Linked DNA regions of Homo sapiens: region 1 is linked to region 2. The links come from fine-mapping of genetic effects on gene expression. A gene starts in region 2. The other region holds a variant in brackets. All regions are shown on one strand. Distances are from middle to middle.

Evidence for each region. PIP is the estimated chance that this variant, and not a neighbour inherited with it, causes the effect.
Region 1: its variant is fine-mapped to the expression of RAI14 in cerebellum (GTEx, PIP 0.91).

The regions. Positions count from the first base shown.
Region 1 is chr5:34,601,750-34,607,122 of GRCh38, reverse strand. No RefSeq gene overlaps it. Among named protein-coding and RNA genes, the nearest start is that of RAI14-DT, 52 kb to the left of the region's middle. The variant G/A (reference allele first, on the strand shown) is at 2,592.
Region 2 is chr5:34,653,606-34,658,978 of GRCh38, reverse strand. It overlaps RAI14 (retinoic acid induced 14), which reads right to left and starts at 2,651. Exons shown (of 18, transcript NM_015577.3): 1 at 2,504-2,651. It overlaps RAI14-DT (RAI14 divergent transcript), which reads left to right and starts at 2,806. Exons shown (of 3, transcript NR_183264.1): 1 at 2,806-2,986. RefSeq lists a silencer at 2,644-2,693.

The sequences.
Region 1 (5,373 bases), 52 kb after region 2:
CATAGATTCAGCATGAAGAAGGAATGTTAGAAATCATTTAGCACAAATCCCACTTCAAGAGAGCAGTCTTGGGCTGGGTGCGGTGGCTCACGCCTGTAATCCCAGTACTTTGGGAGGCTGAGGAGGGCGGATAGTGAGGTCAGGAGATCGAGACCATCCTGGCTAACATGCTGAAACCCCATCTCTACTAAAAATACAAAAAATTAGCCGGGCGTGGTGGCGGGCGCCTGTAGTCCCAAGCTACTCGGGAGGCTGAGGCAGGAGAATGGCATGAACCTGGGAGGTGGAGCTTGTAGTGAGCCAAGATTGTGCCACTGCACTCCAGCCTGGGCGACAGAGCCAGACTCTGTCTCAAAAAAAAAAAAAAAAAAAAAAAAAAAAAAAAAAAAAAAAAAAAAAAAAAGAGAGAGAGAGAGAGAGCAGTCCTTTCTAGAGCCTTTTTTTTTTTTTTTTTTTTGAGATGGAGTCTCGCTCTGTCGCCCAGGCTGGAGTGCAATAGTGCAATCTCGGCTCAATACAACCTCCTTCTGGGGCATTATTGACAGATTAGCAGCTGGCTTGCATTTGAATGCTCCAGGGCCAGAGGGCAATGTAATTTACCAGGAAGCCCATTTGGGTCTCAGATGGCTATATTTGTTTTTCATGATTAGGCATAATTTAGCTTTTTGGAGACTTCATCTTAGTAAGTGCTCAGTAAAATTACCTACTATTATTGTTACGTTATTGCTTTATTTTTTCTTCATTAAAAACAGCTAATGATAGTTGTAAGGGTTTCCATTTCTTCTTTTCTCAAGGCTAACCTCCCTGGTTGCTTAATACCATGACTGGGTTCCCAGATCCCTTATCGTCTCCTCTCTTGCCACGTGGCTCACCAGCCAGGAGAGCATGATCAGTGCTTCTTGTGATCCCGACCCAATTCATTCCAGAAAAAGGCCCCTTTCATCCCTCTGCCCATGCTTATCAGAGGCAAATGCCCAAAGCAGGAGGCTACAGTTGTGAATCACATCTAGTGTAGCATTCATTCACTGAAAGAGAGCTGGGGTAGGAAATGCGATATTAAATAAGTGATCAGGGACACACCAAGCACATATTGTTAAAGAATTAGTAATATTAAATAGAAATTGTTGGAGAAAAAAAACCTTTCTCTCTGTCTTATTTATTCACACATTGCTCATCAAAAAGCAAAACAAAATAACCTTTATATCTTGGAAGCAAAGCCATTTCTAACTCAAATAAATAAACTGTTAAAGAATAAGACACTCACGGAAGATCAAAAAATAGACTGTGGGTCAGGCAAGGTGGCTCATGCCTGTAATCCCAGTACTTTGGGAGGCCAACATGGGCAGATTGCTTGAGCCCAGGAGTTTGAGACCAGCCTGGGCAACATGGTGAAACCCCGTCTCTACAAAAAATACAAAAACTAGCCATGCATGGTGGCGGGCACCTCCCAGCTACTTGGGAGGCTGAGGTGGGAGGATCACTTGAGCCCAGGATGTTGAGGCTACAATGAGCCATGATCGCACCACTGCACTCCAGACTGGATGATAGAGTGAGACCCTGTTTCCAAAAAAAAAAAAAAAAAAAAAAATACATAGACCATGGGTTTTTACTGCACATATTAAATTTTTAAATTCTTCTTGGATGATCTAGGGGAGAAAACAGAGCACAATAATCTGATTCTCCTTTTTTGATGCAAGCAGTACAATAATGAAACCAATGAGAAATTAGAAAGCTTTTCTAAATTTAAAAAAGTTATCTTCAGTTTAGAAACAGCTTCTGAATAATATTGATACATGCCCTTGTGAACTGACACACATAAAGACTATCCCAGTTAGTAACCCACCATTTGTATGATATAGCTTTCAAGTTATTTTCTTCATTTTGGTGATGAGTGTGCACTGAGTGATCCATGTTCTTTTATCCAATTCCTCTTATTCTCAATGATACATATTTGCAAAATGGCTAGGGAGGGAAAGGGTAGTTACATCTTCTGCATAGCAACTGAGATCTGGTTGCTAGTTGAGTAAAAGATGCTGGCTGTGTTCAAAAGAGGCAACTAAACTTGGGGTGGGGCCATGGGGGTGGGAAGAGAAGACGTAAGCTGGAGAAGACTGCCACTCTCAGTGGCTCAGCCCAGGCAAGCTGATATTTATTAACAGGGCTCTTGATTGCAGGTGCAAAGATTGGTTTTACCAGCAGATCCTAGAATAACAATTATAAGGGAAGCAAGATGGCGAATGGTTGCAGAAGACATTATTGTTTTCCATTTCTCCCTTTCCTTTTTCATCATAGGACCCTGATTTTGTGCAGGACCATGCCCCTACCCCGTCTTCCTTAAAGCAACCCTGTGCTCTTAGGGAGGTTGGCCCAGACCCAGGGGATAAATTGTGATTAGCCCAAGCCAATCATGCTGTCTTTTTCTCTTGCTGGTGATTAGTTTGGGCATGGGCACATTAACAGATCTGCTCAGGGAGACAAGAGAAGTGCATTCTGGAATCTTTTGAAAGGCTTGTAAAGAGAGATACACAGAAAAAGATGGTTTCTTATTCTCCTGGGCCTTCTCATGTCTGGATGTGGTACCTGGAACTGCA[G/A]CAGTCATTTTAAAACATGAGGGTGCTAGCCTGAGGATAAAACCCATATGTTAAGTAAGGGTAGCTGGGCAGAGATGGCAACACCTGGGGCCTGAGGATTTAACTGAATCACTAAATTAACCAACCACAGAATTTCCTGTCATACACGGAACAGTGCCCCCCCATCCCCATTCATATGTTGAAGTCCTAATCCCCAATACCTTAAAACATGACTGTATTTGCAGATAGGGCCTCTACAGAGGTAATTAAGGTCAGATGAAGTCATCTGGGTGAGCCCTAATCTGATCTGACTTGTCTCCTAATAAGAAGAGGAGCTTAGGACACATGGAGAGAGACACCAGGGATGCACATGGCCAGAGAAGGTGGCTTCCACAAGCCAAGGGGACAGGCCTTAGGAGGAAATAACCTGCCAACACCGTGATCTCAGACTTCTAGCCTCCAGAACTGTGAAAAAATTAACTTCCACTGTTTGAGCCACCCTGTCTATGGTATTTTGTAATCACAGCCCTAGCAAACTGATTCGTATCCCTACCTTGGGACTTCTTCATATTGTATATGAGGCCTTACGACTTTTTTGTTTGTTTTAGGTCACTTGAGTGGAGTTTTCTGTTTAATTCTAACAGGGTTGTTAAAAACACAAAAAAGATATTGTAGCCGTATTATTCTATTATAAATGAAAGCAAGTTCTGAGGCTAGGAGATATAGCTACAATATCTAACACTAAAGATCAGAATACCAGGGAGGATAATCCCAAGTACCATTATCATAAACACAAGGGGTAGCAGGAGAAAGCTGAAAATGTTGGAGGAGGGGTACCATTTACAATGTTTTTTCTAAACACCAAGGTAGAGCCTTGCTTTCTCCTCTCCTAATCCACCCATAGCTGGACCTGATACGGAGCCTCATGAGGATATGGTTGTGGTCAAGAACCACAGTGGAGCTGAGTGTCCTAGGCATGGGCTTAGCCCAGCGACTGTGACCTCAGCTAACCAATCCAGTTAACTAGCAACAGATGAAGAAACAAATTTTGACCAGCTTCAGGGAATGAGAATTTATAATGCCTTGTATATTAGCTAGAGTAGGATAGCATGGGACCCACCTCATTTTATAGGCTTCCCCTTACTAATGTAGGCCATCCCAGGTCCTAACTTCAAAGCAGGAAGTTGGGTAACCACTGAATAAAGAGAAATCCACCATCAACATATACGTAGCCTATATATGATTATATATATATATGTATATTTATAATCAAACAGCTCAGGGTTGGCTCCAAGCTATGAAATAAGAAATGTCCCTTTCATGACTAAATATGAAGTTTTTTTTTGAACCAAGTGTATTTTTCCAGAGAATAGTGGTCAGATTGACCATAGTTACTTATTTCTTTCCCTTCTTCTTTATTTTCTTAGACAGGGTCTCTCTTTGTTGCCCAGGCTGGAGTACAGTGATGTGCTCTCGGCTCACTGCAGCTTCTGCCTCCCAGGTTCAAGCGATTCTTCTCCTGCCTCAGTCTCCCAAGTAGCTGAGATTACAGGTGCCCGCCACCACATCTGGCTATTTTTCTTTGTATTTTTAGTAGAGATGGGGTTTTGCCATGTTGGCCAGGGTGGTCTCGAACTTCTGGCCTCAAGTGATCCACCTGCCTTGACCTCCCAAAGTGCTGGGATTACAAGCATGAGCCACTGCACCCAGCCATAGCCACATATTTCAAGCTTTCAATGCTTAGATTCCGACAGCGCCTCTTTGGTCTTCCACCTCCATGATCTTTTCCCTTCTAACCCATTTTGCTCCCTGTTGAAGCTTCCTAAGATCACTTTCATTATTTCCTCCCCCACCTCCAAAATATTCATCTGGGCCTAAAACTATTGGAGACACCCTTGAGTGCATCCGCCCAGCCTGCAGTTCCACATTCTATCTCTGAGAGCTGCTCTGTCCTGGAGATGGGCCCAGAAGCCATGTTTATTTCATATAACATCACTTCTGTTGTTGCACTAGGAAGAGACAATCAAATTCTCTCTCCTGGAAATTTGGAATTGGAAGCCAAAGAAGCCAGTAGCCTCTGCAGATCATTTGAACTGAGGATATAGGAACTTGGGAGTTGTGGAGTGGATTGTCTTACACCATATTCATGGGCAACAGAGAAATCTATTGTGCAGAGAAGAAAGGATGAAGCAAATATGCACAGAAGCCAAAGTGAGAAAGTATGTGGTGGAGGGATGGGTGGAATTGAGGGATTAAGACTAGGAAGCTTGCATCCCTAGTCCCTGAGAGCTTTTCATACTGGGTTCCAAGGCTTGGGGAGACCTAGCTGCCCATTCTGTCCTGGAGTTCCTCCAGATCTTTTTATTTATTTATTTGTTTGTTTGCTTTCAAAATTTTATTTGCTTTTTTTTTTTTCCTTTTCTGAGATGGGGTCTTGCCATGTTGTCCAGGCTGGTCTTGAACTCCTGAACTCAAGCCATCCTCCCACTTTGGCCTCCCAAAATGCTGGGATTATAGGCATGAGCCACCACACCATGCCTGTTTGTTGGCTCTTCATATGGCAAGCCTGTCCAACCTGCGGCCCGTAGGCTGCATGCAGCCCAGGACAGCTTTGAATGTGGCCCAACACAAATTCATAAACTTTCCTAAAACATTTCCTAAAACATGAGATTTTTTTGCAGTTTTATTTTTTAGCTCATCAACTATTGTTAGTGTTAGCATATTTTATGTGTAGGCCAAGACAGTTCTTCTTCTTCCGATGTGGCCCAGGGAAGCCAAAATATTGTCAGATATGGGGTCTCAC
Region 2 (5,373 bases):
GGAGTAGGAATAGATCAAATATTTAAGTTATAGTTTATTTTTCCGGGGGGGGAGAGGTATGGATCAAATATGAAAATATTAGCAACTATTAAACCTAGGAAGTAGAAGACAAAATGGCTTACTATACTCTGTTTTTATGTATGTTAGAAATATTTCATACTTATTTATTTATTTATTTATTTGAGACAGAGTCTTGCTCTGTCGCCAGGTTGGAGTGCAGTGGCGCAATCCCAGCTCACTGCAACCTCCACCTCCCGGGTTCAAGCGATTCTCCTGCCTCAGCCTCTCAAGTAGCTGGGATTACAAGTGCGTGCCACCACGCCCAGCTAATTTTTATTTTTTGTATTTTTAGTAGAGACGGGGTTTCACTGTGTTGGCCAGGATGGTCTCGATCTCCTGACCTCATGATCCGCCTGCCTCGGCCTCCCAAAGTGCTGGGATTACAGGCATAAGCACCATGCCTGGCCCTTATTTTTATTTTTAAAGGATGAAAAAAAAGGAAAGAAGGAAGGGAGGGAGGGGGTGGAGGAAGGAGAGGCAAAAGTTGTCCACTGCATTCTATTAATTCCAAGGCCCAGTTGTTCTTAACCTCCAAATCTGCTTCTTCACTTTTAAAGCCTAGGTGATAGTACGTGTACCTGCCTAGAACATGCTTTGAAAACTAGCAGACTGGAGAGAGAATTTCACTGTCAGGTTCACTACTGGTGGGCGGGACACTACATCATTCCCCTACGGAATCCCTAGGGGGCTCAGCATCCTTTCTGTCTCTTCAATTCAGATAACAGTAATAAGATTTTCCAGCAGGGTTATAATCACACCACCACCACCACCATCTCCAAAAAGCCATAAAACAATAAATTCATTACTGAAGCATCTCAGTGAATGGAGATGAAAACTGTGCAACAGCCCAGCACGGGATAGCTCTCCCAATCTCTGTTAGACAAGCACTGGCTAAAATATAAGAACTGGATCAATCTCCTCACATAAAATCAACTGTCTTACAAACCCAAGGGGGAAAAAAATCACACTTGTTAGGCATCATTAAGAAAAGATTATCAGATTATATACATCAGTAATAAAATTCCGAGCCACAGGGCGAACAGGGACCTGCAGGCTGGGGACAGAGCAGCCAAAATCCAGCCTCCCTGTGATTCCCGACCTCTTCTCCAACTCTGTGCAAAGCCCGAGGAGGTGAGACTCTCTTCGCTAAGGCGAGCTTCGGCTATGTCCTAGTGATGGACAGTTCCTCTCTGCCAGGCCCCTGCAGCCTTGAGACCACATTCCCCAGAGATCCGGCAACGTTTCCCCATCCCAGGCAGCTGGGCATTCTCCTCTCCCGGAAGGAAGACGGAATCCCACCCCGATCATGCGTGAGCTGCGGCGAAGAGAAGCCGCTGGTCCCGAGGCGAGGGGCCTCGAGTCCGCAGATTCCCCTCAACATTTCTGGGAGTAAAGTTGGGCTTAGCTGGGCTCCTGGCAAATAAAGAGGAGCCTGGAAAGACAGCCATGCTCAGGCCCCCGTGAGGCCACTTCGGACCCCTCCACGCTGTGCTGGGCTGCATCTGCCTTAATTCCCCGTCTGTTGCTTCTCCAGGCTCTGAGCCCCCTCCACAAAAGGGGGATGCGAAACTCAAAGGAGTTAGGATGTCAACCCTGCAAACCGCAGAAACTAAACCGACACCAACCTGCCCAAGAAGGCAGCGAAGGTGGTTGAGGACGACACCCCACCCCCCACCCCCCACCAGGCAGGGGTCGCGGGAGATGGCGGGCGCCTTTCTGGTGGCTCCACGTCCTCCTTACTCCCGAAGTCCCGGCGGCCCCGAGTCTGCCCCAACTCCAGCATCCGTTCTCCCCGAGCTGCGGCGGGGAAAACAAGGTAGGGGGCAGGGGCAGGCCCAGAGGGGTCTCGCCCCCGCCCTTGGGCCGGCCGAGGGGCTCCCTGGAGTCAGAGGAGGAACAATAGCGGACCCCGCGTCCTGGGAGCCACCCGGAGTCTCCCGCTCGCACCTCCCTCCCCACCTCCTCCAAGTTCAGCCGGGAGGCGGATTGGGCTCAGCAGCACCGACGCGGGGGCAGCGAGGCGCCGCGCGGGGCGAAACAGGTGGGACCCGGCGCAGACTCCAGGGTGCATCTCCGGGTCTGCTCATTCATTCCCACCCGCGCTCCCTCCGCCGCGGCCCCTGCCCCGCGCCCCGCCCCAGCCGGCCTGCGAGTCGCGGAGGACCCGGGAAGAACCCTTCTCCTAACTTGGCCGGGTCTTCCCGCTCTACCCTCATCTCCACCTTCCTCTCCTTCCTCTTGTCCCCAGATCTGCTCTCCGCAGACAGTGGGCTGCCGGCGGTGGACCAGGGAGAGGTGGCGGGACCCCGGCTGCAGCCCGCTCAGCCGCTCCGCCCGGGCGCCGTCCCCAGCGCCTCCCGCGCCCGAGCTCCAGACACAAAGGCGGGGACACGAGCCCGGGACCCCGCGCCGGGAGCCTCCCAACTCCGTGCCGCGCACTCACCCCATCGAGGCGGCGGCGGCGCTCCCCGGACCCAGCTGGCTGCTCCACCCCGCCCGCCGCTTCCCCAGGAAAACGCGGCCGCCGGGCTCGCTTCCTGCTCGGCTTCCTGCGCCGCAGTCCCTCCTCCTCCCCCGCTGCGGGGGTCAGTGGGCGCCGAGCTCCCGGGCTAGGCCGGCGGGGCGGGGGCAGCGGCAGCACCACCACGTGGCCGCCGGGCGCCGGCCCCCGCCGACCTGGATCCAGTGGGAGCGGGAAGGGAGGCGCTAACCATTCCCCTCCCATTCCACCCCTCGCGGCCCCAAATTCCGCGAGTCAGGTGACCCGGCCCCGGGCTCTGGCCGGGACCTGCGGGGGGTGCTCTCCGCCCTCCAGCCCCCGGCGCATCTCCCCGGCCCGCGCGTCCCGGCTGTTCGTGGCTTGCTTTTAGTCTCCAGGGATCGTGGGACCCTTCTCCGCGGATCTGTTTCATCCTCTTAACCTGAAGTTAGTGGAAGCCCCCCACGCTCTGACCCCTGGGTTTAGGACGGATGAGATCCCAGATACTGTTTATTTCTGATTAACTTCCAAAGTCGTTTGTGGTAGTGGCGAGTGTTTCAAAGTCACGGATCCAAGCCCCTTCTGACCAGAATCTAAAAGGTTGTTTTCCAAAATCATTGAACAGAAAGTAAAGTAGAATGTGCTCACGTTCTCCGGACTGAACCAATTGGTTGAAGTGACTGTTTTCTAGCACTCATTGGGTGGCAAGGCAAGACTACCACCGTTCAGTGTTGTTCTGCTCAGGAGTTAGAAAGGAGAAACCTACAGCCTGAACTGACAGGCGAGATTGCGCATGGGAACGCCTTCAAAATAGTGTGTGAGAAGCCACGGGGTACAGGCTCACTGCCCCAGGTCCCCGACAGCTTCTCTCCCTATCCCAGCCCACTAAGGCCCGACCTTTCAATTACGATGGACTCCACCATTAATTCCAAGGATTTCAAAGCTCTCTATCTACCCACTCATCTAATTTGGGCTGGCTTTTCCATGCATTCTAGTCATGCTAACCAGCTGTGACTTCAGTTCTGTTCACCTAAGCTCCTCCCTTCTCCTCGTTAGCTCTGCCTCCTTTGCTCAGGGAAGAAAGCTTTCTAGAATAAATAACGTATTGAGTTCTTTCTGGGATCTACTGTAAGTCAATTGAACTTAAGAGGGAAAAAAGGTCGATTCCAACAAAATTGAAATTCACCCTAACAGCTCAGTTTATAACGTGTCAGCTACATACTAATATTTATATGGCAGATATTACCTGTTCCCTCCCCCCGCCCCATCCCCCTTTCCTTCCTCCCTCTCCCTACTAGGGAAGAGCCTATCTCCCCTTTAACAGTTGAACTTGACAAACAAGCATCAAAAGCCTTGTAACTAGGTGCAGGGTCTTCACTTCCTACAGCAAAAGTTCCTTAGCCAAGTGAGGAACAGCTAAAGCAAGATGTACACTCCTCTTCCTGTCCTTTATCCCTCTCAAACAAAGTCACACTGTAAAAGAAACATGAACTGACCAACATTCTTTTGGTTTAATGCTGGCAATTTCTACAATAGTGTTTCATCGTGATTCTTGTTAATGACATATTGTAGGGTATTTAAGGGGAACATTACTGCCTGTGAGTTTTCTGCTCTATTTTTGCAGGTCAGTCTGGTTCAAGTAGGGGCAGCTGGGAGGATGGGATTTGGAGCATGGTACAGGTAGATGATGCTGTCTTGGAAATTTGACATGTGTGTATTCTGTAGGAACAGTTGACATTTTGAAGGAGTTAAAATATTAGACAACATTAAACAATGATTGTCTAAGGCAGGCACATCTGACTTTGATTCACAGAGGTCCTGTCCCTCTTCTTTTTTCTCTGTCCCAGCCACCTCCAAAGAGCCTACCAGCCTATCACCTCTTAGATTCCCATAGGTGGTTTGTATATGATTCTCCTTAGTTTACACTCCCACCCTCTAAAGTCAGCAAGTCTAACTCTGGATGAGGGATCGTTGTGAAAGTATTCTTATTTTTTTGGGCTGTGCCAAGATCCTTTTCCAGATCCCCACTTTTGAAACTCAAAGCAACTTTGTAGTCTGTAGACTGAGCATGGCAGCTAAGTTCTGCCAACTGCAGGGGGATTAGTGGGGAAGTAAGAGGTTCAATAGCATCTTCTTATTGGTTGTGTTGCCCAGGCGTTTTAGAAATGCTAATTGGGTTCATTGGATACATTGAATACCACCCTTTGATGAGAACTAGGCCCAGGTGAAAGGGGTTGAGTTAAAGAAGCAAAAATAAAATGACCAGCTAACCTGTGTAAAGTAGTAAAACCTTTTGGGAGGAGCAGTATGTTGCATTCCTTTATCCAAATATCAAGGTAACAGCAGTGTAATATGTAGTGCCATGAGCACCAAGAGCAAGGAGACTGGGTTTCCTGACCCATTTCTTTTGCTTACTTGCCATTTGACCTTCACCAAGGGTTTTAACTTCCCCTGTTCCCCCTTTCCTCATTAGTAGAAGGGAACATCAAAGTACATGACCTCCAAGATCTTTCTTTTCTTTTGTTTTCTTTTTTCTCTCTTTCCTTCTTTTCCTTTTTTTCCTTCCTTCCTTCCTTCCTTCCTTTCTCTCTCTCTCTCTGTCTTCTTTCTATCTTTGTCTCACTTTGGTGCCCAGGCAGGAGTGCAGTGGCACAATCATGGCTCACTGCAGCCTCAACCTCCAAGCTGAAGCTTTCCTCCCACCTCAGCCCCCAGGTCCCACCTCACTAGCTGGGACTACAGGTGTGGGCCACCACACCCGGTAATTTTTTTTTTTTTTTTTTTTTTGTACTTTTGGTAGAGACAGGGTTACGCCATGTTGCCCAGACTGGTCT